Regions from separate parts of the Homo sapiens genome. Here regions 1 and 3 are each linked to region 2. Evidence: fine-mapped expression QTL. A gene starts in region 2. Each other region holds a variant in brackets. All regions are shown on one strand. Distances are between the middles of the regions.

Region 1 (10,063 bases), 12 kb after region 2:
TCTCTGCCTTCCCACCAAAGTGGCTTGAAGCTCCCCTTGGCTGTCACATCCAACCTAGTGACAGCCAATAAGTCGGACACGCCTCTACTCAACACTGGCAGCCACAGGCCACAGCTGGCTGGGGTGGGGGGTAGCAGGGAAGATGGGCAGGAGGCTGGGGCACCAGAAGGAGGAGGTGAGGATATGGGTGCCCAAGGGTGCCATGGAGAGAACCAGCTCCAGCCTGTCCACTACACATGCCCACGCTCCCAAGGCCTCCCTGGCTTTGAACTTGCTGTTCCTCCTGCCCTCTGGGCAAAACAAGCCCTGGTGCAAATGCCACCCCCTCCAGGAAGGCCTCCTTGGTTTCCAGGGCAGAGTGAATGGTTCCAACTCTGACACACCCACCGTGAACTGCAGCATCCTGCCCCAGCTGGCATCAGTGTCCCTGCTCCAAGTGATTGTGCTCAGGGCTCCTTCCTCACCCCCACCCAAGCATGAGGGCCTCTGAGGCTGGGCAGGGCGTTCTACCCATTCCTCAGTGCTCCCTCCCCTGCACTTAATGAGGCCCAGGAGAGGCTTGCAGAATGAATGAATAAATGAATGAATGAATGAATGAATGAATGAATGAATTCCGGGGGTGGTTGCAGGTTGGGTTATCAAGAGAAATAATAATTCTGTCCCTTATCAGAGGGTTTTTGATTTTCAGCAATGAGATCCTGAGGGAAGCAGATAAAATGTTAGCTCCAAACCGGAAAGGCTGCTCGATGGTGACTGTGAGGACACAGGGACAGTGTTCAGACTGGCGCCTGACACACGGGAGGGAGGGGAGATCAGGGGGAGAAGAGGAGAGAGGAAGGGAGGGAGGAGGAGAGGAAGGAAGGAAGGGAAGGAGGGAGGAGGAATAGAGAGGAGGAGGGAGGTGGGGTGGGGGGGAGGGGGCAGGAATAATGGAGGGACAAACAGGATGGTGGGATGGGCTCTGGGTGTAGCTGCATGGCTGGGGGCAGGTCTCTCCCACTGGGGACCCCCGTGCTGGCTCTGAAGCAGGCTGGCCCCTCGGGGAGATTGTGCTGTCCATGTATGGCAGAGAGCAGACACCAAGCAATGACAGGGGATGCAGGTGCCCCTGAGAGAGGCTCGCCAGTCCTCCAACCGGAAGAGCAGTGAGGCAGCTTGGGGCTTGTTCCTCGAGGGGCAGGTGGGATTTCAGCAGAAGGAAGGGCTCCAGGAGCCCTGGTGCAGGGAAGGGCCTCTGGGTCAGAGGGGAGTCCGTGGGCACCGGGCACCCAGGCAGAGGCTCCTGTGATGTGCCATCCCTGGCCTGGATGGCCACCTGACTGCCTGTCCAGTCCTGATGGTTACAAAGGCCTTCTCCAGGTTAAGTCGAGTCCCCAGGCCCCTGTGTGTCTCGGACCTTCAGCACAGAGCTGGTCTGCCCTCATGACCCTGGGGCAGTCCTCAGGGTCAGCGGCTCAGCCTCTCATAGGCCAGGAGGGTGCCCCTGGGGATGGAGACTGGAGGGATGTAAGAGACACCTGAGCCAGCGCCAGGGACTCACCGACGCTCCACCCCCTGCTCATTCAGGGCCTGGGAGGCAGGGGCTGCCCAGGTCGTTCAACCCACAGCCAGGGACGCAGAGGCTTGGCCCCTGGGGGGCTGGGCTGCTTGGGCTTGGAGGTGCAGGCCACCGGCAGATCAAGGGGCCAGCTGGTTTTGTTGAGGCCTCAGGGTGGGGGTGGAGATGCCCTGCCAAGAGAAGACGTTCAGGCTCTGCTGGGGGATGCCAAGGCCAGGTGTGCACAGCTGTGCTTGAGGGGTCATCCCCTTGGAGCCCTCAGGAAGGCCCTGGGCCAAGGGATCTGAAGCTGGGGGGACAGGGCCAGCCGTAGCAGACGTGGGCACTGCGGGGGTCGAGGGTTGGGGGATGGGGAGGGGGTAAAATCACCCAGGAAAGCGGGGAGCAGAGGAGAGGACCCGGGAGCAGGAACTGGGGATGGGAGAGCAGAGGGACTTGGTTTTCCCAGGCAAGAGGGAAGAGGGAGTCCCGGGAGGGTGGCCCCAGGAGACAAACCAGCTGGGAGGCCAGGCCCAAGAGGGCTGGAGGGGGGCACATTCAGAGTGTGTGTGTGCACGTGCACGAAGGTGCGTGTGTGAGGGGTGTCGCGGTGGACTGGAGAGGTCTGGGGGCTGGGCAGAGGAAGAGGGGGGTTTGAGCCAAGGGCTGTGCATCCTGAGAAGTGTGGGGGCCAGTGTCGGGGGCTGGGGCTGAGCTGGATGGACCTGCAGGATCGCAGGAGGCTTTCGGAGGAAAGCTGCACCTGGTAGATGGTGGGGGGACAGGAATGGGTTCTCCCGAGGTGGGCAGTCACAGCCCAGGGCTGGAGGGACGGTGGTTGGGCTAGAGTGATGGGGGCCTTGAGCAGGAGGTGGCCCCAGCCCCTGGACTCACCCAGCTGCAGGCTCAGGACGGCGGCCAGCAGGAGCCCAGTGCCGAGCTGCATGTTCTCCTGGTGAGGTCGGGCTGTCGGCGCCCTGGCCGGCTGCCTTATACCTGCTGGCACCCCGCCCTGGCCCTCGCCCGCTCAGCAGACTCTGCGGGTCTGAGTCACCAGGCAGCCGGGCTCAGTCAAGGAGCCGGGCTGGGGTCCGGGCGGTAGGGGCCAACCTGGCCCCAAAGCTCGCTGGTTAGGCCTCTGAGCGGGCCGGTGTCATCTCATGAGCCATCTCTCCTTGTCCATAAAGTAGGGATAGCCCTGGCTGACAGGATTGAGGATCTGATAAAATGGCCTGGCACCAGGCAAGCAATGGCCACAGGCCACTCTCCCTCAGTGGCTGGGAAGGAAGGCCTGGCACCAGGCAGGTGACGGCCACAGGCCGGTCTCCCTCAGAGGCTGGGAAGGAAGGTCTGGTGGGAAGGAGGGTCTTGGGCACCAGCCACCAGCCCACCCCTTACGCCTCAAAATGCACATGAAGCTCAGGGCTGGGTGGAAGCCACAGGCCTTCATCTGTACTCCCACCCTAGAATGAGTTCCATGACAAGACCTCCTCCAAATAAGCCAGAGCTTTCCCATCCTGACCCCCGCAGGGCTGGGAGAACACAGAGGGAGCATGGTTGTGAGCCACCTCTCTGTCATCCGTACAGGGAATCATGGCCATTGTCACACTGTGACTAACGCCCCAGGATCTGTGCAGAGGAGTAGGGGGGACAGAAAGGCCCTTGGTACTAAAAGGGACCCCAAGGATAAGGTAAGAGCCCAGAAGGGACACCCTGGAGAGCGGGAGCCATCAGCTGTTCCTCCAAAGGCTGGCCAGGGGCTGGGGCCCCAAAGGGCCTGTCCGTAGCCAGTCAGCCATGCCAACCCGGGGACCCCTATGTGTCTCTCGGGCTGCCCACATGGCTTCTGTCTACCCCTCCGTTTCGGGGGCTCCTTATGGCTGGGAGGTGGGCCCAGGAGGAGGGAGATCCTGAAAGAGGGGCTGGCAGATCCAGGCCCTCCTTCCTGGGGCAGTCGAGAAGCTGGGGTCAGGAACCAGGTAGGCAGAGAGGTCAGAGATGGTGGGATGGGGTCCTGGGGGAGTTCCCGCCTCCCTTACCCCGCACACCCAGACTTCCTCAGGGGTTTGTATGCCCCTCAGGGGTGCTGGGTGGGGGGTGGCCTCTCTCCCACGGAACTGGGAGCAACTCTCAGCAAGCCCCAGGAGCCCTGCCTGTCTCCCTCCCTGTGCCTGGCTCCGAGGACAGGTCAGGCCTAGAGGCCAGAAAAGTCCAGGACCTGGACCGGGTAGGGTAGACAGGAAAGTGGCTGCATGCAGCCTGGAGTGCCAGCCCAGCCAGGCTGGAAAGGTGAGGCCCGAGCTCAGGCC[G/A]AGGCAGTGGGGCTGGAGAGAAGCGCAGACAATGCGAATCTGTTGATTTATTTACGGCTCGGTGAGACGACGCTGGACGCTGGTTAGGGTAAGGGTTAGGGCAAGCATTAGCAGCAGGGGCATGGCCCTGGGAAGCACCTGGACCCCAGAACATAAGACAGGAGGGAGAGATGCCATCCATTCAGCGGGCACTTATGCCCACGACCAGCTGAGCCAGACCAGCATTCCCATTTCACCACCCCTTACTCCTCAAGATGCAAATGAAGCTCAGGGCTGGGCGGAAGCTGGCAGGGCTGTCCACAGGGAGGACCCCCGTGTGTCTCTCGGGCTGCCCAGGTGGCTCTGTCCACCCTTCTGTCTGGGAGGCTCCTTAAGGCTGGGGAGGGCCCAGAGGGAAGGAGATCCTGAGGGGCTGGCAGATTCAGGCCCTCCCTGCGAGCTGAGGTTTGAAGAGGAGAGCAGACCACCCAGAGTAGTGGGAGAAAGCACCGGCAGAAAAGCTGGCATATCCACCGAGGGCCTCTCTGCTTCTTTTGACCTTTTTCAGAGTTTCAGAGTTATGAACCAAATCGCCTTCATGAGAGATGACGAATCAGATGCTACATAGTGGGGGAGGCGGCAGCTGGCCTGGCTCCCCCACTTCCCCAGGACCTCCGCCTGGAGGAAGCCTGCCCAGGGCCGCAGCCCTGCCCCCAAAGACCCCAGGACAGACCAGAGCTCCTGCTGGAGCCGGGTGTCCCCATGCTGACCTGGCCATGTCCCCAGGTCCCACCCCAGGGTCACTTCCTGTAGCTCCGACTTCTCTAGTGGCTGATTGCAGTTCCCAGAATGTATAACATCCCAGGGTGCCAGAGCCCACCCAAGCAGCCACTCCTGTCCAGTTCCCAGAATGTATAACATCCCAGGGTGCCAGAGCCCGCCCAAGCAGCCACTCCTGTCCAGTTCCCAGAATGTATAACATCCTAGGGTGACAGAGCCCGCCCAAGCAGCCACTCCTGAGTCACTCGGGCATGTCCAGGACTCAGGTCCACACAGACAGTGGCAACAGCTAGCCCTGGGCATCTACCCCCATGAAGGGGACCCTCGGTTCTGCGAGAGAGATCCCCGAAGTGGGAACTGGGCCCCCATGGTGCCCAGTGCCTCTCCCCCTCTCCTCTGCCACTCTGCCCTGCACCCAGAGGCAGCGCTGGAGGCCTTACTCTACCACTCAGGGCTTCTCAAACCTCTGGTTCCACTTTTCTCCTTTTAAGCTTTCCATTTTGTAAACTCACCTCCCCCTTCCCAGGCTTGGGGGTCCAAGGAACCCCAGCTGGTGGGAGAAGCGGCTGCACTGTGGTGCAGGGGGTGGTGAGTGAGCGAGGAGGCACTAGTGTGGGGCAGCTACTTCACCTCCCTGTGCCTCTGTGTCCTCCTCTGTCAAAGGGGCAAGATAATGGCTCCCATTGCCGGGCTGCTATACAGTGCTCAGGGCCACAGTGCAGTGGGGGGACCCACGTCCATCGCCACCTTGATGCATACAACCCGGACAAGTTTACTGCTGTGATTTCTGCCGGCGCTGCTGTGCCGGTTCCCTGGTGCTGCACAGCCACGCACTCCCCATGAGTGGGCCTGCCCAGCATTAGCTGAGTGCCTTCTGTGTGCTCTACGCCAGGTGCCAAGGGCAGGCCAGCCAGGCAGAACCATGTGTGGGGCTGGGACAGGTCAGGGTGGTGGAAAGGTGGACAGAAGGAGGCAGGAGGCAGGTGTGAGAAGCTGCCCACCCCACCCCTCAACACCACAGCACTTCCAGCTCCAGCAGGTCCTTGTTCTCAGCTGCCCCTGAGCCATGGGTGGCCAGGTCTCCTCCCCATCACCCCACTGAGACTCGAGACAGGGAGGACCTGATCCTGGAGTCCCTCCCAGCCCTGGCTGAGGAAGCCACCCAACCCGACAATGGGCTTGCGCAAGCCGCGCAGTGACTGCTCCCAGCCTCTCCCAAGGACTTAGGAGCCCAAAGCCGCCTCCCTCCCGGTAAGCATCCCAAGGCATCGCTGGCTGCAGCTGAGAGGGCCTCATTTGGGCACTGCCCTGAGGCTGGCACTTGCAGGTGGGGGCCCTTGGGAGCTCTGGGAGGCACCTGGCAGCCTCCCAGACACCCCGGGCCGGTCCTGCTCTCCAGGCTTAGGGCTACAGCCACAACCACTGGGGGTAGGGGCGAGGGGAGTCCAGGCCCACCCTGTGCTGGCAGCAACTCCTTCCCAGCTCTGGGCCCAGTATGATGCCCATCTTCCCTCTGGGGAGTCACGTTCCTCCCGCTCCGGGCCCGTTCCCACCCAAGGTCCCTTTGCAGAAGACTGGCACTGTCCTCCTCCAGCGGGAACTGGGTGTGCCCTCAGCAAGACTCTGCCCCCTCCCATCCTCATGTTCTCAGGAGACTGAAGCTGGGCACTCAGAACCAGCCCCAGGAGCAGAACGCAGGCCTGCATATAGACTCACTGCAAGGAGACCCCTGGGGTGGAGACCCTCATTCCCTGATCCCCCAGGGGTCCTGCATCAAAGCTCTGGAGATGCAATTTCCAGCAGGGGCTCCCCTGACCAGGGCCATACTTTGGGGCCGGGACAATCCTACCACATGGATATGTCACCATCCTGCCCATGCGGGATGGCTTGAAGGGTTTCTCAGGACACCAGAGCTGGGAGCACTGGTCAGGTGGGGGCCTCAGGTGCAGCGTGACCGCTGGCACCAAAAGGTCTCACGCCCCCGAATGCCCCATTCACAGCAGGGGCAGGTGCTCCCTGGGCTACCTGCATCGGGGATGGATTGGTGCGTGTTGGGCTGACCCCTGCTTCCCAGGCCTGGGGTGGGGTCCCTGGGAGTCCACACACCCAGCTGGGGCTTCCACCCTGCCCTCCCAGTGGGTGCATCCCCAGGTGGAAGGTGATGGAGGGACCCACTCACTGTGCGCATCCCGCTGCGGGGGAGGGGCTGGGTCTCCGCCCTCCCCACCCCACCCTCCCCACTCCCGCCCCCGCACGGCCACGAGAGGGTGGCATGCTCCGCCTTCCCACGCCCAGGCCCGCGCCGGCCCCAGGCTGCTCCCAACCCCCAGCCTGTGCGCGCATCCCCCAGTCCTGCGTCTTTTGCCTTGCTCGGCTGGGTCCTGCTGTGGTTGGGGACCAGGACTCGGGGGACCACCTGCTCTGCCCCTTTCCCTCCCTGCCCAGAATAGCGCTGGCCGGGTCAGCGTCCAGGACCCACCAAATATAGCATGGCCCTAGCTCCTGCCAGCTTCAGGCCTGGTGCCCTCCCCGTGAGGGGGTGGGAAACGTCAAGGGGTTTGACTGAGAGGACACACACCCCTTGCTGGACCCGAAAAAGCTTCTGTGACTTCGGGGGCCCTGGGGCCTGCTGAGGCAGAGCCGCCCCCTCCCCTGCAGGGGGTGGCTCCAACTCGGGCCTGGCAGACTTCCTAGCACAGGGGCCGGTGCCAAAGGCCCTCCTCCCACAGCCCTGATCCCGTACCGGTCCTGGCAGCTCCTGGCCTCAGTAGGAAGCGTGACTAGGCCTGGAGGAGCCTTTCCTCCTAAGAGTCTCCCCACCACCCCACCTGCGGGCATTCCTTGTCTTCCCCCTGCCCCAGCACACCAGGGGCAGACTGAGGCAGGGGCCTCTCCTAGGGCTTCCCAGAAGGTGGGCTTGGCCACAGCTCCCATCTGCTCAGTGCTCCCTGCCTGACTGGGCCCCTCCCCATAAATAGCCCTGGACAGGCGAGGGGCTGATCAGCCCATCAAAGCCGGACACTTTTGGGATCCCACACAGCATCGAAAGGTCAAGGCCTCGAAGTGAGGTCGTGTGGTGGTTGGGGGAGGTCGGGTGTCTTCTTGCCCACAGTCCTGACCCTGGGCATGGCTGAGGAGGTCGCAGGGAGTGTGGAGGGTGAGGCAGGGTGAGCTGGGTGCGAGGGTGTAGCAGTGTGTCTCGAGAGCTTTGTTCTTGAGTGGGTCTGCCTCGGGGGCTTTAGAGGAGACCCCAGAGGGTGGCCAGGAGGATGGGGGCCAGGGCCAGGGTGGCCGGGGTGGCAAGGCCGGTGCCGTTGCAGAGGTCGTACTGGCAGCAGGAGGTGGTGGACGCGTGCTTGGAGTAGCCATCATACACAGTCTCGAAGCAGCGGGGCACGCAGGACTTACTGACCTTCATCCTGGTGGGGGTGTAGTCTGCAGAGGGGCGGGGCGGTGAGCCAGCTCCGCTAAGAGGGGCAGGAGACCCAGCTGGCCCCACCCCAGCATCCACAGCCATCAGGGCAGGGCCCCTCAGCCTGGAGCTCCCAGACAGGATCCGGGAACAGGAGAGCCTCCTTCCTCAGGACCCCCGCATGCTCAGGGGCAGGGCAGAACCTCCCCTTCGTGCTCCCCAGGCAGGGCCACGCAGGGCCCCCAGACTCACAGGTGCGCGTGGTCATGCAGTAGGCAACCATAGCCGGGCAGCGCATGGGGTTGAAGCAGTTGTCTCCGTTGTAGGCACACACGTGGCAGTCCAAGGCCTGGGCTGGGGTTGGCAGATGGGCGGGAAGGGAACGGGGGTCACAGAACATGAGAGGCCCCTCCTCCAGCCCATCAGGCCCCCAGCCCGTCACCTTCCCCGGGGCAGGGGGCTAGAAGGAGGGGTTGTCGCTGGGAATTCTAGCCTCCTTCCCTACTGTCAGCCCATCTGCCCTCAAAGTGGGTCTGCCCATCCCTCTGTCCTTTGTCCATCTTACCCAGAGGTAAGCCCATGAGGACCACCAGGATCAGGGTGAGCAGGGGCGTCATGGCTGCAGGCAGGAGGGCAGCGTGGGAGTGGGGAGGTCAACAGCAGCTAGCCCTGGATCCAACTCAGGGGTGGCGCACAGAGGATCCAACTCAGGGTGGTGCGCAGAGGACGTGGGGCCGGCCCTGCCTCCCGGAGCTCCTGGTCTACTGGGAGTGCTGCAACCCTGCACAGCAGGTGGCAAAGACAGGTGGTCAGTACTGGGCCTGAAGGACCCATGGGGGCCTGGGCAGGGATGATGGTGGGCAGAGGGGCCACCTAACTCAGTGGGTGTCAGGGAAGGTTTCCTGGAGGAGGAGACACTTGGGATGGGACAAGAAGGGAGAAGAGATCAGGACATTTCAATCAGAGACCAGCACCTGCAAAAGCTCAAAACAGCCTGTAGCGCTGGATGGAGGAGAGATGGGGGGAGGATGAGGGGCAGTGCTAGAGAAGGAGTAGGGATGGGCAGAGGGGCCTTAAATACCAGGCCTAAACAAGGATTTTACCCAGGGGATGGTTGGTGCAGAGGTCCCATGGGAGGTGGTCTGCAGCCCCATCCCAAGCAGGGCCCTGGGGGCCGGATGGCTGGCCATGGCAGGACTGGGCCCAAAAGCTGGGTCTCTTCTCGCTGTTCCCCTCCTCTCTGCTCCTGGGGTGTCCCTACTTGGGGTTCCTTCTTCCAGAAGACCTCCAGAGCCCTGGTTAGGGTTGTCTGAGTCCTCGGCCACTGCAGAAGCTCCCCAGCAGGGATGAGCTGTGCCCAGCTTGGGGGGAATGCATTTTGAGCCCCTCCCAGGAGGGCACTTGGGCCAGACAAGAAGAAGCATTTCCCCGGCTGGGTCTGGTGTTTGGAACGGGAATGCCCTCTCTGGAAAGAGGTTTACAGTGGGGAGGTGGGGGTTGGATTACGGCTCTCCTACCCCTGCCGGGATACTCGGCCCTCGGTCTCCGTCCTGGAGGACTAAATTAAACTTACGCCTTCCCGAGAACAACAAATCCGTCTCTCACGACACATTTGCCCAGGCCAACCCCAGGATGCCAAAGGCCAGAGTCAGGCCTGCGGCTTCGAGCTTCCCAACCCCCTCACGGAGAGCCCCGCCCCAAACACTGCGGTCCCAGGTCGAGGGGAGGGCTCTCGGCGCGAGCGGGACTATCAGGGTGACCTCACCTGTGACCTTCACCACCGTGAGGTACCGCCGCGCCTGGGAGTCACCCGCGGCCGCTCGCCGGTAGGTGCCTGCCTGAGTCTAATCGTAGGCGTGTCTGTGTGTCCCGCAGCACCCGTGCCGCATCGCCTGATGCTCACCGCAGGCCCAGCCCAGTCCCGCCCCCGGAACAGCCCGCCCAGCGCGAGCTCACCGCAGGCCCCGCCCCAGGCCTGCCCCGGCCCCACCTCCTGAGCAACCCCCCGAGCCGAGCTCACCGCAGGCCCCGCCCCGGACCCGCCTC
Region 2 (10,063 bases):
ATCACCCAGTGTTCTGTGTCTGCTCAGGCCCTGTGGTCAGTCAGTATCCTGTGGCCGCCCACACTTACTGTGTCACTGTTTCTGTTTTGGAGTCTGGGCACGGCTTCATGTTGCTGCCGGGTCACTCCCAGGCTACAATGCAGGCTTTGGCTGAGCCATAATCATCTCAAGGCTCAGCTTGGGGAGGACCTGCTTTTAAACTGGTGTGGAGTTGGCCAAATTCTGTTCCTCACTGTCTGTCTGTTGTTGGAGGCCGCCCTCAGCTCCCGGCCATGTGGACCTGTTCAACATGGCCACCAGCTTCGTCAGAGCCTCAAGCTGCACTAGTGTCTATTGCTGGGTAGCAAATCACCCTACACTTAGGGGTTTAAAACCGAGCCTCAGGCTGCACTAGTGTCTATTGCTGGGTAGCAAATCACCCTACACTTAGGGGTTCAAAACCACACCCATTTTTAGCTCCGGCCTTTCTTGCCTTGTGGGTTCGGCTGGGCTCTCTGCTCAGGGTCCCACAGGCCACAGTCGAGGTGTGGTGGGGCTGGACTCCACCTGGAGGCTCCAGAAGGAATCTTCAGCCTCACTCAGGCACTGGCAGAATCCGGGTCCTTGAGGTTGCAGGGCTGACATCCCTGTTTCCTTGCTGGCATCTGCGGAGGCTGCTGTCTGCTCCAGGGCCCCCATTCCTCCTTGGGTGACCCCTCCACCTGCCAGTCAGCCACGCGCACTGCATCCTCCTCCAGCTTCAGTCTCTGTCTTCCTTTTCTGCCACTGGCAGACATGTTCCATCCCTGGCTGCATCTTGCACCAAACAGTAAAACCCCCGACTTTGTCATTCTCTCCACAAGTGCTGAGGTTCACCGGAGGTGGCTTCTGGCGTCTGCTCTTGCCTTCCCCCTTCCCACCCTTATGATGAAGTGCAGCCACATGCCGTCCCCAAAGCCTCACCTTCCGTGGCCACCTCATCCCAGGGGAGGGATTTGGAAGCTGATTTGTTGCCGCCCATCTTCTCGGCTGATGGGACCCTCAGAGGTCAGATGACCAGCTCCAGAATCTGACCCTCAAGGGTCACTTGTAGGTAATGCCTTCTGATGGCCTCAATGGGTCTTGAGGAAAGACTCCTGGAATGAGACCCCACGCCCACTGCTTATCAGGGAGGCGGTGGGCGGGGCCTATGCAGGAGCCACTGCCTTCACATGTATACCTTTGCAAGGTGGCCTGCGGCCCAGAAGCCCCGCGAGCCAGGACCCCACGCAGCCAGCAGAGAAGTAGGTGCCTTGCCTGGATTCCTGCCTTCCATATTCAGGAAATAGAAGTCGCCCCTAGGCTCCAGGGCCCCTGGGAAAGGGAGCTGTGGTTTTCCAGCCCCTGCAGCACGAGGCGGTGCCCTGGCAAGGTTGTGGGTGGAGGCCTGGGCCTTCCACCAACACAGGCTGGGCTCCCTGCTGGCTCCAAGCCACAGTGAGGTGCCACAGGGGCAGCACTGGGGGCCTCTCCCCTGCACCCAGGTGAACAGCCCCGCCTGCTCTGCTCTTGGTGGCTTCTCTTCCGTCCTCTCACCCTGTTCACGTTTTGTGCTGTGAGCACCTCAGCTTTGGGGCAGGGGTCCCCAGGCCCCATGTGGGAGGCTGTGGCCAAGCCCGGGGCAGGGCAGTTTCTGATCACACTCGTATGAGATGGCCTCATTTGTTTTTTTGCCTCCAAAAGTGGAACTCCTCTATTCGGGCAGCTTCCTGGGTGGACGGGGAAAAGGAAGTGTCAAAAGTTCAGGCCTGGGGCACCCTTCCAGGCTAGATGCCAGCAAGGCTCAGGGAGGGCTGGCAGAGTCCAGTGAGGCCTGGGGGCTGGCTGGAAGGAGTCAGGCTTAGAGGTGCTGAGTGGGCAGGAGACACAATCCTGAGTCTGACACGCAGAGCCCTGTAGGAGCTGGCACTGTTCCCCTCTGTGGCCTTGTCCCCTGCTCAGTCCCTCCCAATTTATGTTGGCAATACCCACCCTCACCCAGAACCCAGAGGAGCTCTCTCTGCCACTGCAGCTCCAGGGCCCAGCGAGCCTTCCTGCGCAGCCTGCCTCAGGGTGGTCTCCCGGGAGTCTCAAGGGCTGCCCCACCTGGGCTCCGGCTCTCCCGGTCATCCAGCAGGGCAGGCCAATGGCTCCTAAACCAGTGTTCCTATGTTGAAAAGGAAGTGGAGGCACAAACAGCGCCAAGCGTTGTACGTTGGAAAGAGGTCTCCCGTGTCCTTCCAGAAGGGATGTGTCCTCCAGTGCCACCCTCTGCACCCACGCAGGTTAGCTCCCCTGCAGCTTCGTGATGGGAAAACTGCAGGGAACATGTGTCTGTGCATGTTCTTTGCCCCCTACCCTGTTAGGAGCAGCGGGTAGGAGCAGGGCTTGATCACACTGAGAACTGGAGCCAACTCCACCCACAGGGCTCACTGTTCATGGGACCACGATCCCCTCCCCTCCCCTTCCCTTTTTTTTTTTTTTTTGACAGAGTCTCCTTCTATCAAAGGCTGGAGTGCAACGGTGCTATCTCAGCTCACTGCAACCTCTGCTTCCTGGGTTCAAATGACTCTCCTGCCTCAGCCTCCTGAGCAGCTGGGATTATAGGTGCATGCCACCACGCCCGGCTAATTTTCATATTTTTAGTAGAGACGGGCCTCACTGCAACCTCTGCCTCCCGGATTCAAGTGATTCTCCTGCCTCAGCCTCCTGAGTAGATGGGATTAGAGGCTCATGCCAGCATGCCCGGCTAATTTTCCTATTTTTAGTAGAGATGGAGTTTCACCATGTTGGCCAGGCTGGTCTTGAACTCCTGACCTCAAGTGATCCGCCCACCTTGGCCTCCCAAAGTGCTGAGATTACAGGGGTGAGACACTGTGCCTGGCCTAGACCATGACTTTCCACCCTGCATCTTCATTCCTGAGCTTCACGCTTCCAGGAAGATAAAGCAGCAAATGGCTATCATTTATTGAGGATCTTCCCGAAAGGCCTATTGACTCTTCAATAGAAACTGTTAGGGGACACCTCAAGACTCAGAACCCATGGCCTCAAAATTCTAAACTACTTTTTCCGAGTCCTGGCTCAACACTAATGGAGCCCCCTCATTGGAAGACCTACCTCAAATCAGACTCAAATCCCAGGAGTGCTGGAGGGAGCTGGGGTGACCTGTCCTTGGGTTTTTGGTGACATTTTAGGGAGCCAGCATTCAACGAAATGCTAGTGGCATTTTGAAGTTTCCTGGACAGGGCTGATTTGTCCTGCGAGGGCTGCATCTGGGACAGCACCGAGGTTGGTCCGTGTCCTTTCTCGCCGCGTGGCCTGGTCGCTCTCCTGCTTGGGGGTTTGCAATTCTGCTTGGCACCTCTGTGATTCCCAGTACGGGTGAATTTCTTCTCCTTGGCTTGGCCACTTGAATGGCTTTTTCTGGAAACCTGCTGCTCATATCTGCTGCTCTTTGGGAATCTCGAAGGATTATTTACTGTAAACCAAAAATAAAATTCTAAGGCCCTCCACAACCATCTGAATGGACCCTCTTCTTGACTAGGGTATTCCAAAGTGAACCTGAAAAACTGGTTCGGATCATGCCGGGAAAGGGTTGGACAGCCTCATCATCCCTCCTCCCTCCTGGAATTCAGGAAAAGCTGACCACCGTTAACATCAACACAGACCTTCAGTCTGAGGAGAAGCATTTACCATCTATTGTCTCGGAAGCCTGCTACCTGGAGGCTTCATCTGACGATAAAACCCTGGTCTCCACCCCCCTTGTAATCCACACATTCCTTTCCATTGATTCCAGCTCTTTAGATAATCTTAACTCTTTCAACCAATTGCCAATCAGAAAATTTTTAAATCTACCTAAAACCTGGAATCCCACCCCCCCCCCCACCCCGCCCCCACCTCGTCCGCTGGAGTTGTCCTGCCTTTCCGGATGGAGAAATGTATATCTTCCATGTATTTGATTGATGTCTTCAGTATCCCTAAAACCAGACTGTGCCCCAGCCACCTTGGGCACATGTTCTCAGGGTCTCCTGAGGGCTGTGTCGTGGGCTATGGCCCCTTATATTTGGCTCAGAATAAATGTCTTCGAATATTTTACAGAGTTTGACTCTTTTTGTGGACGTTATGTGTGGAGGGAATCATCGCGTGTTACATGCGTGGCAAATATTTCCTTGTTTGTCTCGTCCTTCAGTTTGTTTATTCTTTTTTTCTTTTCTTTTCTTTTCTTTTATTTTAGATTTTTAGGTAGTATTTATGAATCCCAATCCCGGTTTTGTGTCTTTTCTTTTAAAAAAAATTTTAACAGCTTTATTGAATATACTTCACGCACCATACAATCCACCCGTTTACAGTGGGTAACTCAGTGGTTTCTCACGCACCATACAATCCACCCATTTACAGTGGGTAATTCAGTGGTTTGTCACGCACCATCCAATCCACCCGTTTACAGTGGGTAATTCAGTGGTTTCTCACGCACCATACAATCCACCCGTTTACAGTGGCTAATTCAGTGGTTTCTCACGCAGCATACAATCCACCCGTTTACAGTGGGTAACTCAGTGGTTTTTCACGTACCATACAATCCACCCGTTTACAGTGGGTAACTCAGTGGTTTCTCACGCAGCATACAATCCACCCGTTTACAGTGGGTAATTCAGTGGTTTGTCACGTACCATACAATCCACCCGTTTACAGTGGGTAATTCAGTGGTTTTTCACGCACCATACAATCCACCCATTTACAGTGGGTAACTCAGTGGTTTGTCACGCACCATACAATCCACCCGTTTACAGTGGGTAACTCAGTGGTTTGTCACGCACCATACAATCCACCCGTTTACAGTGGGTAACTCAGTGGTTTTTCACGTACCATACAATCCACCCGTTTACAGTGGGTAACTCAGTGGTTTCTCACGCAGCATACAATCCACCCGTTTACAGTGGGTAATTCAGTGGTTTCTCACGCAGCATACAATCCACCCGTTTACAGTGGGTAATTCAGTGGTTTCTCACGCACCATCCAATCCACCCGTTTACAGTGGGTAATTCAGTGGTTTGTCACGCACCATCCAATCCACCCGTTTACAGTGGTTAATTCAGTGGTTTGTCACGCACCATCCAATCCACCCGTTTACAGTGGGTAATTCAGTGGTTTCTCACGCACCATACAATCCACCCGTTTACAGTGGGTAATTCAGTGGTTTGTCACGCAGCATACAATCCACCCGTTTACAGTGGGTAATTCAGTGGTTTCTCACGCACCATACAATCCACCCGTTTACAGTGGCTAATTCAGTGGTTTCTCACGCACCATACAATCCACCCGTTTACAGTGGGTAATTCAGTGGTTTGTCATGCAGCATACAATCCACCCGTTTACAGTGGGTAATTCAGTGGTTTCTCACGCACCATACAATCCACCCGTTTACAGTGGGTAATTCAGTGGTTTCTCACGCACCATACAATCCACCCGTTTACAGTGGCTAATTCAGTGGTTTCTCACGCACCATACAATCCACCCGTTTACAGTGGGTAATTCAGTGGTTTGTCATGCAGCATACAATCCACCCGTTTACAGTGGGTAATTCAGTGGTTTCTCACGCACCATACAATCCACCCGTTTACAGTGGGTAATTCAGTGGTTTCTCACGCACCATACAATCCACCCGTTTACAGTGGCTAATTCAGTGGTTTCTCACGCACCATACAATCCACCCGTTTACAGTGGCTAATTCAGTGGTTTCTCACACAGCATACAATCCACCCATTTACAGTGGGTAATTCAGTGGTTTCTCACGCACCATACAATCCACCCGTTTACAGTGGGTAACTCAGTGGTTTTTACCATATTCGCAGTTTTAGCCCATTTTCATCATCTTGAAAAGAAACCTTGAACGCTTCAGCGCTATCTTTGCTCCATTCACTGTGAGAACGTGAAGTGGTTATTTTGTGAGATTGTGAGATGGATATTTTGGTTTTCTGACATTGCTTATTTTGTGAGATTGTGAGATGGATATTTTGGTTTCCTGACATACAGCTCTTAAAACCCTTGGAATCTCTGGAGTGGCAAGGGCATCTTTTGTATGCTAATGAGAGGACTGGTGACTGGGGGTCCCCAGGGAGCTTCAGGATGAGGGACAACGGGATTAGAGAGCTGGGACTTCAGCCCCACCCCCAGCCTTCAGGGGAGGGGAGGGGCTGCAGGTTGGGTTGGTCAGTGGCCAGTAGTTTAATCCATCATGCCTACGTAATGAAGCCTCTGTAAATTTCCCAAAAGGACAGGGCTCAGGGAGCCTCCGAGAGCAGAACATGCGCAGGTGTCTGGGGGTGGCACTGGGAGGGCCTGGAAGCTCTGAGCCCCTCCCTGTGCCTGCCCCACGCGTCTCCCCCACCTGCTGTGCGTCCACACCTTCGTCACAGCCTGTGTCATAAATGGGTAAACGCGGCTCAGTGTGTCCCTGAGTTCTATGAGCCGCTCCAGCAAGTCATCAAACCCGAGGAGGGGGTTGTGGGAACCCTGATTCATGGCAGGTTGGTCAGAAGCACGGGCCACACCTGGGGCTTGCGACTGGCATTGGAAGTGGGGCTCACTGCGTGGCACTGAGCCCTCCACCTGCGGGATCTGACGTGACCGCCACAGGAATGGTGTCGGAATTGAATTGAGGACATCCAGTTGGTGTCCACGGCAGTGTGGCTTGGTTGCTGGTGGAGAGAAATACACACACTTTGGTGATGGGGTGAAGTACTGTATTGTGTGAGAGCAGGAAAAGTACTCTGGCTTTTCCCTATTTCTTTTTGTTTGTTTGTTTGTTTGCTTTTTAAGATGGAGTCTCGCTCCTTTGCCCAGGCTGGAGTGCAGTGGCACCATCTTAGCTCACTGCAACCTCCGCCTCCCTGGTTCAAGTGATTCTCGTGCCTCAGCCTCCCAAGTGGCTGGGATTACGGGCATGCGCCACCACACCTGGCTAATTTTTGTATTTTTAGTAGAAACGGAGTCTCACCATGTTGCTCAGGCTGGTCTCAAACTCCTGACCTCAGGTGATCCACCCTCCTCGGCCTCCCAGTGTGCTGGGAATACAGGCGTGAGCCGCCACACCCGGCCTTTCCGTATTTCTTAATAATCCCTGCCACCACCTAGCAACCACTCATCTCCTTTTCCTCCCTATAGAGCTCCCTATTCCGGCCACTTCTGAGAAATAGAACTGTACACTGCTTGGCCTGTTGTGCGCGGCTTCTGTCTCACTTAGCATCGTGTTTTCAAGCACCCCCCGCGTGTTTTCAAGGCTCTCCCGTGTTTTGGCGTGGGTCGGGGCTTCATTCCTTTATGTGGCTGAATAACATTCTGTGGTGTGGGTCTGTCATCTCTGTGATCCCTCCATCAGTTGATGGGCATTTGGGTTTTTCCCGCCTTTTGTCTGCTATGAATAATGCCACTGTGAATGTTTGTGCACAGGCTTTTGTGTGGACTCGTGTTTACTCTTCTTGGGCCATGCCTGGGCGTGGAATTTGGCCTGGGGGTGGAATTTGGACCAGGTGGGGGGGCGGGGGTGGAATTGCTGTGTTTACAGCAACTCTGTCCAATCCTTTCAGGAACGTGTCTTGCTTTTCTATTCTGAATTATCTAGCATTAAAAAACCTCCTCTTTTTACATCGAAACCTCTCATTCAGTTGGCATGCCTTTGGCTGTAGCGAGAGAGGTGATGATCCAGCCTTATCCTGTTCTCTCCACAGTGCTCCACGGCGGCTGCCAGTGAGCCCTGTCCCTCTCCTGCAGATCTGAGAAGTGCTCCATTGTCACCTCAATTCTTGAGCTTATCTGGGTATCTCCAGCGCACCCTGTTTATGTCTTCTTCTGTGCCCGGGGCTACTCTGAAAGTTGTCCTGCACCTGAGTGTCCGGCGGCCCTGCCTGAGACACCCCCTCCTTGTGGAGCAGCTTAACAATTGCATCAGCTTTCTCCTGTGCTGATTCTTCATGAGAACGTTGCCAAGGTGAGAACAAGAAAGGCCAAGGAAAGGGCCTGGCGGTGTGTTTCTTGGCAGGTGCTAACTCAGTCGGGGGGATCTGGGTGCTGCAGGTATTGACTCACCTCGGCCTCTCCGAGGGGAGTGCCAGGCTTATGTGGGGGTCTCATTCAACCTTGCAGCCCGAAGCTCGGCCATGACGCAATGTTGCCTAGGGAGTGATCAACTTCCACAAACATCACTTACCTAGTTTCCATGTCCACCCTGAGATGGGTGGCCACAGCTGCCCATCACCTCAGTCTGATTCATCCCACTCCCAGCATCTCTCCCCAGCACCCTGCCTTGTGTGCTGGGTACCCAGTGGCCCAGAGGAGCTGGAGGTGGTGTTCCCTGCCAGAACTGGGGGTTTCCTAGAGAGGGGCAGGCCGGGCCACTGGCCCAGGGGCATGTATGAGGGCGAGGGTGAGGATGCCGCCTCACTCTTCTCCCTATTCCAGAAGGCCTGCTGCAGCCGTCTTTGCCAATGGCACCTCCTCCCTTCCTCCACCCCGCACAGCCTCCATGTCTCAGCCGGGGTGTCCTTTTTCTGAGGTTTCCCAACTCACGCTCTGGGGTGGAGGGCTCCTCATGTGCCCCAGCCCCAACTCCCACTCTAGCTGCTTCAGGAGAAGCAGCTGCCCGGGGTGCCTGGGCCCCCGTGCCCTTCAGGCCTGACAGTTGGCTGGAGGCGGGAGGGCCTGTTCCGTGATAAGGGCAAGTGGGGGTGGGGTAGTAGGGTTTAGCCTGGGGTGAGGGAGCGAGGCACCCCCAAATCTACTCCACTCTACTCCCAAGCCCAGGATGGCAGGACTCCACTCTCACTGCATAGCTTGTACCACACGATCCAATCACATTTTATTGTGGGGAGGTCGGGACCTGAAGGGGCGGCAGGCACGATGGGCCCCAGGCTTGGACGGCAGCAGATTGAGGCAAGACTCCACGCAGGACTTCCCTAGGACAAGCGGTGCTGGACGGTGGCTGCAGAGGCCGGGAGAGGTGGGCTGGCCAGTCTCGAGGGAGGGGCAGCTGTGAGCCCTGGCGCCAGGCTGTGGGGGCTGTGGGGGCTGAGCGTCCGGGGGCCTGGAGGAGGGCAGCCGTCAGTCATGGTTGCAGAGGCTGGTCTGGCAGCAAGCGATGGATACGTAGGGGCCCAGGCCCAGGCTGGGGATATCGGGGCAGCCTATGTGGCACATCTTGGTGACCAGAGGCAAATCCTCGGTGTTGCTGAGGACCCCTGAGTGGGCAGGAGAGAAACCATGGAGCTCCCTGAGGCTCTGGTTTGCCCAGACCCTGCTGCCCCATCTGCCACTGAGCTGAGGGTCAGACGCCCCAGGTACATGAAGCATACGGGCCCTCCTGGGGCAGACGTGGCCCTTTGCTCATACCCTTCCCTGGGCATCACTGGCGGACACTCCCCACTATGCTTCTGACTTACTGGGTGCCTGGATCTGGCTCTGTCACCCTCTGAGCCCACATCTTCCCACCTGGGCAAGAAGGACGTGGCCAGCCCACCACTGTTCCCACTTACGGGTGGCAGTGGTGACACAGTGGGTGGAGTCCCTCAGGCATCTGGATCCATGGGAGCACCCTCCGAAGCCCGTGCACTGGTGACACCATATGGCTTCGGCTGCAGCTGCGGACATGGGGACAGACAGGACACAAACGGATGGGAGGCAGGTGTGGGCCACCTTCTGCAGTGACGGCACGCACTCATCTCCACCCAGCAGCCCATGCTCCTTCTCAGCGGCCAGTGTCCCGACCCTGTGATCCAGCCCTCTCAGGAGCTGGGCCCCTGTCCCTCACCTTGGGGTGCCTGGCAGCCCTGCAGCTGGAGCCAGCTGGTTGCATCCTTGCCCAGGAAGCAGCCTTGGGCAAGGGTGGGGCCGGGCAGCCCTGGCTCGCAGTGTGATGTCCCAGGGCAGTGGTGGTGCAGCAGCCTGGGCTATTTGGGGTCCCAGGGTGGGGGGTGGGGAGGAGGTGGAGGGGCTCTGAGACACGCTTTCTGGCCATGCCCATTTTTGCCTCTGGGTACTGAGTGGGACCTGTTAGACCCCCGGGACTGGATTC
Region 3 (10,063 bases), 26 kb after region 2:
GTCACAGAGAAGCAGCCTGGAGGCTGGGAGACTGAGCTAGGGACCCCTGGAGGCACAGGGCAGAGGGCAGTGATGGGCTATGAGCTGTGACTGTCCTTGGGCTTGGTCTGGAGTCCTGCCAGCTCCCAGGCCCCATTGCAGCCACATGGGCAGCCTAGCCCTCTCTGGATCCTGCAGGTTCGCTCCCACTCCTGGGCCTTTGCCCAGGGCCCGCACGCAGCCTCATCCATGCTGCCTTCGTTGTCCCTGTACCTGCTGCTGCTTTGCAGTCTTCCCTGACCCACCAGCAGAACTCCCTCTTCCTTCATTCCTGGAGTTTGGTGGCCACAGCCCCCGTTTCCTGCCTTTCAGGGGTGGGAGTGGTAGGGGAGGTGGCATTCCCGCCTGCCTCCAGGCTGCACTGGACACAGAGCACTCCCGTTCCCTGGGCCCTGGATGAGGATTCCTGCAGCCAGCCTGCCGTGAAGTGGCAGGAGTCACTTTCCCTTGCCCAGCCTTAGTTTCCCCATACGGAAGTGGGGATGGGTGGGCCTGCGGCCTAGGCACTCCTACCCCTCTGCTCTCTGCCCGACTCCCATGCCCAGGTGCCTTCGCACACCCTGCCCTGGGCGCTTGGCAGGCCTCAGGCCACCTGTCCAGAGTGGAGTGGAAAAGGGCACAGATGGGGCCATGAGCGGCACTGGCCTGGGCGAAGGCGGATTTTCCCTGTGCAGGAGCCCCGGCACCCGGCTCTCCGGTGGCCACCAGAGGGCGCTCATACTCAGACCTCCAGGAGCACTCGCAGGCCCCTCCCACATGCCAGCACTCAGGGGAGAAGGGGCGCCCTCACCCCTTCACCCTGGGTCATGTCCCTGAGACTGGGGTTCAAGAGCCTCCAGAGAGGCCGGCTTGGAACACCCCAGGCCCAACCCCAGCCTCGGAGCCATGTGGACACTGACTACCCACAGCCACCACCCAGGGCAAGTCCAGCTGCCTGGGCCCATCCCCATCCATGGGAACCCAGCAGCCCCTTGGCCAGACCTCACCAGGGTGAAGCTGGACTGGAGGGGGCGGGGAGCATGACGCAGGGAATATGGGCCAGGTGAGGTCGCCCAGAGGCAGGGAGGGTTCCGCACCCACTGCGTGGGTTCTGGTATTTCGGGGATGAGGCTGTGACGTGGAGTGAGATGAGGCCCCCGGCAGATGCCCCAGCAAGGGGCCCTTCCCCTTCTGGAGAGGGCCAGAGGCTCCTGCAGGCTGACCCCACGCCCCCGGCATGGGAAGTCTCAGGCCTCACCTGGGTCAGAGCAGAGCTCTGCCTTCCCCCAGGGCAGCTCCCTCACAGGTCTGGCCTGGAAAACTTATGGTGACCGAGCCCCCTCCGGCCCCGGCCAGCAGACAGTGGTGTAGCATGGGTGGCAGCTGGTGAGGGGTCAGTGGTGCTCCCTGGCCCTGGGTCCAGGCACTCAGCTCTTTGTCCCACGCACCATGAGACCAGCAGCATTACCACCCCCAGTTCCAGCCAAGGGCAGGAGCACTAGGTGGGGTCTGAGGCCCCAGGAGCGCACGGAAATGCCTGCAGCCCTGCAGTGGCTGGGAGGGGGGCTGAGGGCCAGGGCCACCATTTAGTCACAGGCAGCATGTGGGGTGCTGGCTGCACCAGGTGGGTGCCCAGTGGAGGAAAATGGAGGCTCCCGGAGGTGGAGTGCTTTGCCTAAGGTCTCTCAGTCAGGGCAAGGAGTGACCCACCTTGGCCGCCCTGGGGAGATGGGCCTTGGGTGTGGAGAAGGGTGATCCCAAGGTGGAGACAGTGAAGCTCACCCAGACCCAGTCCTGGGTCGCGGTGCCTTGGCTGGGCAGGCAGCCCTCCAGGAGGGGGTTGCACAGTGGCCCTGGGTCCCAGGGGAGGCAGGATGGACAGGTGGTAAGAGCAGGCCTTCCCAAATCACGCTTCACCTCCAGTAACCATCCAGCACCCCACTCGCCCCCAGCCCCTCAGCTGGAACTGGGGGTGGTGATGGTGCTGGTCTCATGGTGTGTGGGACAAAGAGCTGAATGCCTGGACCCAGGGCCAGGGAGCACCACTGACCCCTCACCAGCTGCCACCCACGCTACGCCACCGTCTGCTGGCCGCGGCCGGAGGGGGCTCTGCCACCACGGAATTTCCAGGCCAGGCCTGCGAGGGAGCTGGCCTGGGGGAAGGCAGAGCTCTGCTCTGACCCTGGTGAGGCCTGAGACTTCCCATGCCGGGGACATGTGGTCAGCCTGCAGGAGCCTCTGGCCCTCTCCAGAAGTGGAAGGGCCCCTTGCTGGGGCATCTGCCGGGGGCCTCATCTCACTGCACGTCCCAACCTCATCCCCGAAATACCAGAACCCACGCAGTGGGTGCGGAACCCTCCCTGCCTCTGGGCGACCTCATCTGGCCCATATTCCCTGCGTCATACTCCCCGCCCAGTCTAGCTTCACCCTGGTGAGGTCTGGCCAAGGGGCTGCTGGGTTCCCATAGATAGGGTCCATGGGACTTTCCTGGATGGTGGCTGAACTTTCCCTGGGCAGCTGGACTTGCCTTGGCGATGGCTGTAGGTAGTCAGTGCCTACTTGGCTCCAAAGCTGGGGTTGGGCCTGGGGTGTCCCAAGCCGGCCTCTCTGGAGGCTCCTGAACCCCGGTCTCAGAGACATGACCCGGGGTGAAAGGCTGAGGGGTTCCTTCTCCCCTAGGTGCTATGTGTGGGAGGGGCCTGCGAGCCCTCTTACCCTGTGCTCCTACTCAGGCCTCACCCCAGGAGTGCCCTCCACCTCTGGGGCGGTGGGAGGCATCTGAGCAGCCTGCCCCTTCCAGGGTGGGGACGGACGGTGCCACCTCAGGCATCACCCCACGACTGGCCCCAGGGGACATGTGCTGGAGGCTCAGGGTACCTATGTGGCCTGATATCCGCCCCTCAGCTCCTCCGTCCCAGAATAGCACAGCCACAGCCACACTGGTTTAAATCATTTATCTCCATGTAGAGATTTGAGTACAAAAATAAACGGCAACAAAACAGAAGGAGTGTGAAATCCGGGGATCCACAGGGCTTCTGTCCTCCACCTTCCATGCAGCTGGGGGCTGCATCCTCTGTGGGGTGGCTTCATCCTCTGTGGGGTCTGTGGGGCCTGCTCCAAGTCATCAGCATTCCATGCCCACCTGGACCTGGTCCCAGACTTTCGGGGAAGCCCTCAGCCTGGGGCTCCTGGCACCCCCGTTGCGGCTGGGGAAGAGAGGTGTGGAATCCCCAGAGAAAGGGAAGGAAAGGCATGAGGGGCCTTCCCTGGGGGGAAGGTCACAGGCTGGGGGCTAAGATGACGGCCAGGAGGCTCAGGGCCAGCCCCAGGCTGAGGGCACTGTGGGCGAGGGCGGTGCGGGTGGGTGCAGCGTTGTGCAGCTTCTCATTGCACAGGTCCTCCTGGCAGCACTGGGTGGAGCTGGTGCCGCTGCTGACCTGGCCTTGCAGGGTGTAGCTGGGTGTGCACGACTCCGCACAGTCCTTCTTCACCAGATTCCCCCTCAGAGGCTCCACTGGGCACAGGTGAGTGTGGTCAGGCCAGGCAGCCACCTCTGCCCCCCACCTCCCCACAACCTTCCAGCCAACACCCACAACAGCCAGGGATGTCCCCCAGCCCCAGGGACACCTGGACAGATGCTACCCACCTGTGTTCGTGGTCTTGCAGAAGCGAGAGCTGGCCGGGCAGACCACAGAATGCTTGCAGTTGCTGGAGCTGGTGCACACGTGGCAGCGCAGGGTAAGGGCTGGCGGGGAGGGAGTCCGGCTCAGCGGGCCCAACAGAGGCCTCCTGGTGACTCAGCAGGGCCTGCTCCCCCACCTGCAGAGACCCCTCCTGGACAGAGGCCCTGCTGCCCTTGCCCTAGGCCCCCAAACCCGGGCTCTGGGTCCTGGCAGGGCATGTGCCCTGAGTGCAGCCTCAGGGGACATGTATTCCAGCCTGGGCCGGCTTGGAAGAGGTGTCCTGCCCTGCCCCTGTCTAGGGTGTGTTGCAAGCCTTTCCTCCAAGGTCTCAGGGAGCTCTGCGACTGCCAAGAGGACACTGGCTCTTGTCCCCACCCCAGGGGATGTCCCTGGAGGAGATGGCTATGTTTCTGAGGGCCTGACGGAGCTAAGGCCCCGGGGGCAGCCAGCTTGGCTGCTCTGAGCCTATGACAGGAAGGGCTTGGTGGCCTTTGGGCTGTCCTGGGCTGTGCTGGGGGAGACCTGGGGACCGGGAGGGGCTGGTGGCAGGGACTAGATGGCCGCTCTCCCAGTGAGAAGCATCTCAAGACAACCCCCTGCTCCACTCTCTCAGGGTCCGTGACTCCAGGAGTCAGTTCTAAGATCCTCAGATTCTGAAACATTGTAAATCTGACACTCGTTAAGATTCGGGCTCCATGTTGTTTTAAATTTGAAGAGTCTAGCACCCACAGTGTCGGGGTTCTCTGTGCCTAGATGTCGTCAGCTCCAGGCTCCTAGTATTTGGTGACCACACAGGCCACAGCCGCCCACCCGCCCGTCCCCTTGGCCCAGCCCCTCACCTGGCCCTGTAGCCACAGCCAGGGCTGCAAGGAGCAGCAATGCTGTCCTCATCTCTGATGTCGTCTGGGAGCAGTGCGGGCCCCTGCATTGCCAAGGCCTTATAGGCACGGGCTGGGCGGGGGTGGGCAGTCCGCCAGCCAGCGGCATTCTGCAGGGCTCTGTGCAAGCGTCAGCCCAGGACGGGCACCTGCCCCACCCTGCCTGGCCCACGCCCACCAGCCTGGCTGTCGCTGGGCGCTGCCCCTGCTGCCCCCCGCCAGGCAGAGGTCTGCCCTCCGCAACGGGGCCCAGTGGCCTCCTGGCCCTGCTGTTCCTGCTGCTGTGCCTCCATCTCTCCCACTTTCACTTCTCTGTCTCTGTGGGTCTTGTTCTCTCGCTGCCGTCCGTTCCTGGGTCACTTTGTCTCTGACCTGCCACCCGCTACCCCCCGCCCCCCACCCCCCACCATCCATCACCATCCTGTGTCTTTGTCCCTGCATTCCCCCCATAGTTCCCTCAATAGAGTTGCAGCCTGTGCCCGGTGCCCTGTGGGTGCCCGTGGGTGTCCAGGGCAGGGGAGGTAGGAAGGGCAGGTGCTGGTCCTACTCTCCTGGCTCTGGGCTCAGGGTTGCTGCCGGGGATGCAGAAGGTCCTTGAGCTGCAAGGGCTCGGGGTGGCTGTGGGCTGATGGGGTGTGTGAGGCAGAGGCAGAGGCAGAGGCCACTCCGAGGCAGGGAGGGCAGCTGGGGCAGCAGTGAGGTGAGCACTGGACAGAGTGAGGACTGTGAGGACCCGGCCCTCGAAGTTGCCTGGGGAGCCCTGTGGGCAGAAGGCCCGGGCTGTGGAGGCAGCAACTCCACCCTGCGTTGTGCAGGGAGAGACTGAGCCCTCCTGGTCTCCACCAGCCCTGCCTCCCGCCCTCCAGGGCCCCAGAAGCCCTCCCCGTGGGATTCCTTCCCCCACTCTCCAGGCCCCTCCTGCTACGTTGGGGGCAGCGCCATCCCGGCCACTTTGTAACTATTGCTCTAGGTGTCCCGGCTCCAGTCTCCCCAAAATCGTGAACTCTTTGGGGCTGGGCCCCAGCACCCAGGGCCTCAAAGCAGGTTCTTGGTCTGCTGCCCGTTGAGTGGAGGCCAGTCCCCGCCTTCACCCTCTTTATACTCACAGGAGGGACTTTCTTTCCCTGGAGACGGGGTCTCTGAGCACCCACCGCCTCGCGCAGGAGCCCACCTCTTGGGGCCCCCATCCACCTG[C/T]TCAGCCCAGCACGCTCTGCCGCTCGCCTGTGCTGGGCAGCACCCACCTGAGTGGTGTGGAGGGGCCCACAGACTTGCTTTGCCCCTGCCCTGGCTAGGCTGAAGGTGAGTGGGAGCCGGGGCACAGATGGAGGTCAGCCCTGGGCCCAGCCTCCTGCCGCCGCTGCCACGTGGCTGATGAACAGACAACAACAGGCCCAGGGCAGGGCAGGGCCGGTTCCGAGGAGGGTGGTCCTGGGCTGGGCTGAGGCTTTTGGGAGCACCGTGGGTACTGGGGCCAGTCAGGCCTGGGCTTGAGACAGACCCTCTGGCCCTTCCTCCCGGCATCTCTCCCTTGCTGAGCCCCACGTCTCAGATGCCGGGGATCCCAGCAAATGTCTCCTGAGAATGCTCCTGGCCGGGCTCTCCCTGACACAGTGCCGGGGCCTGGAGGATCCACCTACAGGAGGGGTTGCCTGGTGGTGCCTTTAGAAACCAGGGTGCAGGCGGGAGCCCCCTGGGGCAGCCCCACATTTGCATCTGGTGCCTGGCCCTGGCTGGAGCTTGGTGGGGACGTGTGTAGTCTCACTTGCCAAGGCAGGTGACCCAAAGGTCCATGCCCCCACCCAGAGAGAGGAGGTTTCCTCCAGCTCCAAGGCCCTGTGTCCATGGGTCACAGTGAGAGGCATGGGCAGCTTGGGGGAAGGTGCTTCCAGGGGCCTTGGGAGGCAGAGCTCAGGGCTTGGTGGCGGGGTGATGACTCGGTGGGCATGGCAGGTGGGGAGGGTGACTCACTGTGGCCAGGGGCATGAGAGCTGCTGGAAAAACAGGTTTGGAATTCCTGCTGGGTCTGGTGGAGCTGGAGGGTCCGGGATGTCAGGTGGCCTGAGAGTGGGTTCTGAGTGTGGGGCCATGGGGGAGTGTGCTCCCCACACCTGGGGCTGGAGGAGGGCCCTGCACACCTGGCTCACCCCCGTGGGACACCTCAGGCATCACTGTGGCTGCGTCCCTGCCAGGCATGGGAGCCGGAGCGGGGTTCCAGTTTTGTGGGATGAGGGCCTCTGACCTGGCAGGGCTGCCCACGAGGATGAGCTGCCCATCCCAGGTGGTCCTAGCAAAAGCATGAACAGCAGCCCTACACAGTTCACTTTCAGGAGAAAGCGGGTGCTTCTGATGCCAGGAGCCCTTGGACAGCTGAGCTTCTGGGGACAGTGCAGTCAGGGAGGGTTTCTTGTAGGCAGTGACCTGACTAGAGCCTCAGAGCCAGGGATTGGAATGTGGAGAGGAGACACTGTGGCCCCTCATGTCAGTCCCTGCCCAGTGCTTGTTCACTGGTGAGGAAGTGAGGGCCAGAGAGCTCCAGGCACGTTCTGGGGCAGAACCTGGTGGGGTCTCAAGCACTTCTCACTATCACCGCCAGCCTTTCCCCCCTCCTCCCTCCTCTGTTCTCTAGGGCCTGGGCCCTCCCCCACTCCACCCCTCCCACTCAGCCCCTGGAGCTGGGGCCCTGGGCCTGGTTGGTACCATCAGGGTATTGGCAGCAGAAATGACACCTGGGAGAGGCGACGAAGGGGCCTGGGGCAGGGAAAACCACCGCCCCACCCCGTTAGCCTTGCCCCCTGCTCCCTGAACCAGGAAACCCGGCACGGGGACAAGCCCAGGCTTCTGTCTGGAGCCGAAGTTCCTTGCTCATGCCCCTTCCCCCACCTTCTGCCCCCTCTACCTTATGCTGGGCCCCTAGGAACACACAAGGGTGTGGTGGCTCAGAGAGGGAAGCGCCTGGCTTAGGGCGGCACAGCACCGTACTCCAGGCTTGCACCAGCCCAGCCCTGGGCCCTGTCCTGGCTGAATGGGTGCCTGGTGGACAAGGCGGGGCCCCGGGCTGGAGAAGCTGGCTGAGTGGGTGCCCGGTGGACAAGGCGGGGCCCTGGGCTGGAGGAGCTGGCTGAGTGGGTGCCTGGTGGACAAGTCAGGGCCCTGGCCTGGAGGAGCTGACTGAGTGGGTGCCCGGTGGACAAGGCGGGGCCGCGGGCTGGAGGAGCTGCCTGGGCTGGAGGAGCTGCCTGGGCTGGAGGAGCTGGGAAGCCCCAGGGCACAAGGAAGGGCTTCTTCACCCTCAGGCTGTTACCTGGGCAAGCCAGAATCCCAGCCACACCCCAGGGGTTCCAAAATGCATCCGTCTGCCTTGAGGCACTCCATTCATTCATTCATTCACTCACTCATTCATTCATTCATTCTTCAACATTTTATAAGGACCAACCATATGCAAGGCACTTTGGATATAATGGAAACCAGGAGAGAAGAGAGACAGGGCCCAGGTCCCAGGGCCTGCAGACCAGTAGGGAGTGGGAACAGACAATTGCTGCCTCTGTGGGACCCACAGCAGGGGTGTGATGATGTGGAGGGTGAGGATCTGGGGCTGAGAAGCCAAGGGAGGACCAACCTTGTTGGAGCTGTCTAAGCAGGGAAGGGTGTGTGGCCATTACCTGGTAAGCAGGTGGGTGTCGGGCAAGGGCATTGGGGCCCAGGTGCCAGGCCGCTTTTCTGTCTCTTTCCCCCGCAGGGGCAGGTGGCTGCCCCAAGCTGAGCGGCTGAGTGTGTGGTGTCTTTCTAGAGGCTGCCCTGATCCTCTCAGCCCCCTCACCTGCACAGATGGGGCCTCAGATGGACAGCAAGGGCCCGGCCTTGCCCGGCATCACCCAGCAAGCGGGAGCCACAGCTGGGCTGGGCCTCTGGGCCTGGGCTCTTCCCTCACACCTGGCCTCCCCACTCCTCTTTCTAGTGCCGGAGTCACCTTTACACATAGCACCACAATCTCAGGCAAAGTCTCTTTCACCTGCTTCCCAGGGCCAAGCCTGGCCCTGCCCTAGTCTTAGGTCACCCCCTGGGACCCTGGCTACCAGCCACCCCTCCCAGGGTACACCTAGTGTCCATGGGCCGGGCCGGGCCGGGCCAGGGGCCGGGGATGGAGGCCAGCTCTGCCCCTCCACACAGGCCCCTCATCCTTGCCAGGTCTCTCTTTCCTGCACTGCCAGGGGGGCAATCTAGGGAGCAGTTTCGTGGATGGAGAAACCCTTCTACCTTGGGGCACAGCTTGTTCCCAGCAAAGGCTGGACTGGGGCTCTAGGTTCCTAAGGCCCAAGAGAAACAAACCTGTTCCCAGGCCTGGCTGGTGGTGCCCACAGGCGGGGCTGGCACCTTCCCTGGGAGAGGCACCATTTCAGCACCTAGGACCGGCATGGTCCCTGCGAAGCGCTGGCATTCAGGGGGCTAGTCAAGGGTGCCCAGTGCCAAAGTCTGGGCGATGAGGGAGAATCCCTCAGGGTGTGAACTGTGTCCAGCCTGTGGTAGGGGGAGAGAGGTTGCAGCAGAGTGCAGCCCTGGAGCCACGGAACCATAGCGCAAACAACTGTGGGGACCTCAGAGTCCCAAGACTGCAGGCTGTTAGCATGGGCTTGCAGAACACAGAACCCTAGAATTGCAAGACCTAAGGAACCTGGATGAGAATCAGGTGCCCTGGACGGGGGTTATTTTCACACATTAGGACATGCTCCCACCAGCATTCTAGGGAATGTCAGAGGGTTTGTGTTAATGCTGAACTCCTGGGTTCTCCCCTCTGCTAGGCCACAGCTCAGTCTACTTCCTGTTGTGGCCTGGAACTTGTGGCTGCCAACCCTTAGCTCCATGAGGTAGGTTCAAGGCTGGTGAGCACAGGGCCCACCTCACTTTCCTCCCCCACTCCCCTGCCTTCATTTGCTCCCAATACATACCTGCTCATCCATCCTCTATCCTCCATCCATCCATGCATCCATCCATCTACCATCTGCCCACTCATTCTCCACTCATCCACCCACCCATCTATCCATCCACTCATCTGTCTATTCTCCATCCATCTATTCATCCCTCATCCAGCAATCAATCTACCATCTGTCTACCCATCCATTCATTCACTTATCCATCCATCGACTCATCCATCCATTCTCCATCCACTCATCATCCATCCTCCATCCATCCAGTCATCCATCAATCAATCTACCATTTGTCCACCCATCCATCCATCCATCCACTCATCTGCCCACCTTCCATCCATCCAGCCTTCATCCATCCATCCTCCATCCATCCATCCTCCATCTTCCATCCATCCAGCCTCCATCCATCCATCTTCTCATCCATTCATCTTCCATTCACTGATCATCCATCCTCCATCCATCCACCCACTCACCCATCTGTCCTCCATCCATTCATCATCCATCCATCCATCTATCTACTCATCCATCCATTCTCCATCCACTCATCATCCATCCTCCATCC

Which allele goes with the higher level. Alleles are on the strand shown, and positions count from the first base shown. SD is a standard deviation of normalised expression in the study named.
In carriers of allele A in region 1, the expression in prostate of the gene that starts at base 7,554 in region 2 tends to be higher than with G alone (small effect, 0.37 SD a copy in GTEx).
For the expression in sigmoid colon of the gene that starts at base 7,554 in region 2, C is the low allele of the variant in region 3 and T is the other (moderate effect, 0.72 SD a copy in GTEx).

Evidence for each region.
Region 1: its variant is fine-mapped to the expression of SLURP2-AS1 in prostate (GTEx, PIP above 0.99).
Region 3: its variant is fine-mapped to the expression of SLURP2-AS1 in sigmoid colon (GTEx, PIP 0.90).

What each region holds. Positions count from the first base shown.
Region 1 is chr8:142,767,324-142,777,386 of GRCh38, forward strand. It overlaps LYNX1-SLURP2 (LYNX1-SLURP2 readthrough), which reads right to left. Exons shown (of 5, transcript NM_023946.5): 2 at 8,583-8,798; 3 at 8,270-8,371. The coding sequence starts at 8,634. SLURP2 (secreted LY6/PLAUR domain containing 2) reads right to left here and starts at 2,505. Exons shown (of 3, transcript NM_177458.3): 1 at 2,432-2,505. The coding sequence starts at 2,483. LYNX1 (Ly6/neurotoxin 1) reads right to left here and starts at 9,879. Exons shown (of 4, transcript NM_177477.4): 1 at 9,783-9,879; 2 at 8,583-8,798; 3 at 8,270-8,371; 4 at 3,879-8,040. The coding sequence starts at 8,634. The coding sequence ends at 7,844. The variant G/A (reference allele first, on the strand shown) is at 3,847.
Region 2 is chr8:142,755,512-142,765,574 of GRCh38, forward strand. It overlaps SLURP2-AS1 (SLURP2 antisense RNA 1), which reads left to right and starts at 7,554. Exons shown (of 2, transcript XR_007061134.1): 1 at 7,554-7,984. It overlaps LYNX1-SLURP2 (LYNX1-SLURP2 readthrough), which reads right to left. Exons shown (of 5, transcript NM_023946.5): 4 at 9,525-9,629; 5 at 8,827-9,230. The coding sequence ends at 9,094. It overlaps SLURP2 (secreted LY6/PLAUR domain containing 2), which reads right to left. Exons shown (of 3, transcript NM_177458.3): 2 at 9,525-9,629; 3 at 8,827-9,230. The coding sequence ends at 9,094.
Region 3 is chr8:142,781,925-142,791,987 of GRCh38, forward strand. It overlaps LY6D (lymphocyte antigen 6 family member D), which reads right to left and starts at 4,615. Exons shown (of 3, transcript NM_003695.3): 1 at 4,541-4,615; 2 at 3,665-3,763; 3 at 2,958-3,532. The coding sequence starts at 4,592. The coding sequence ends at 3,297. RefSeq lists a silencer at 726-775. The variant C/T (reference allele first, on the strand shown) is at 5,774.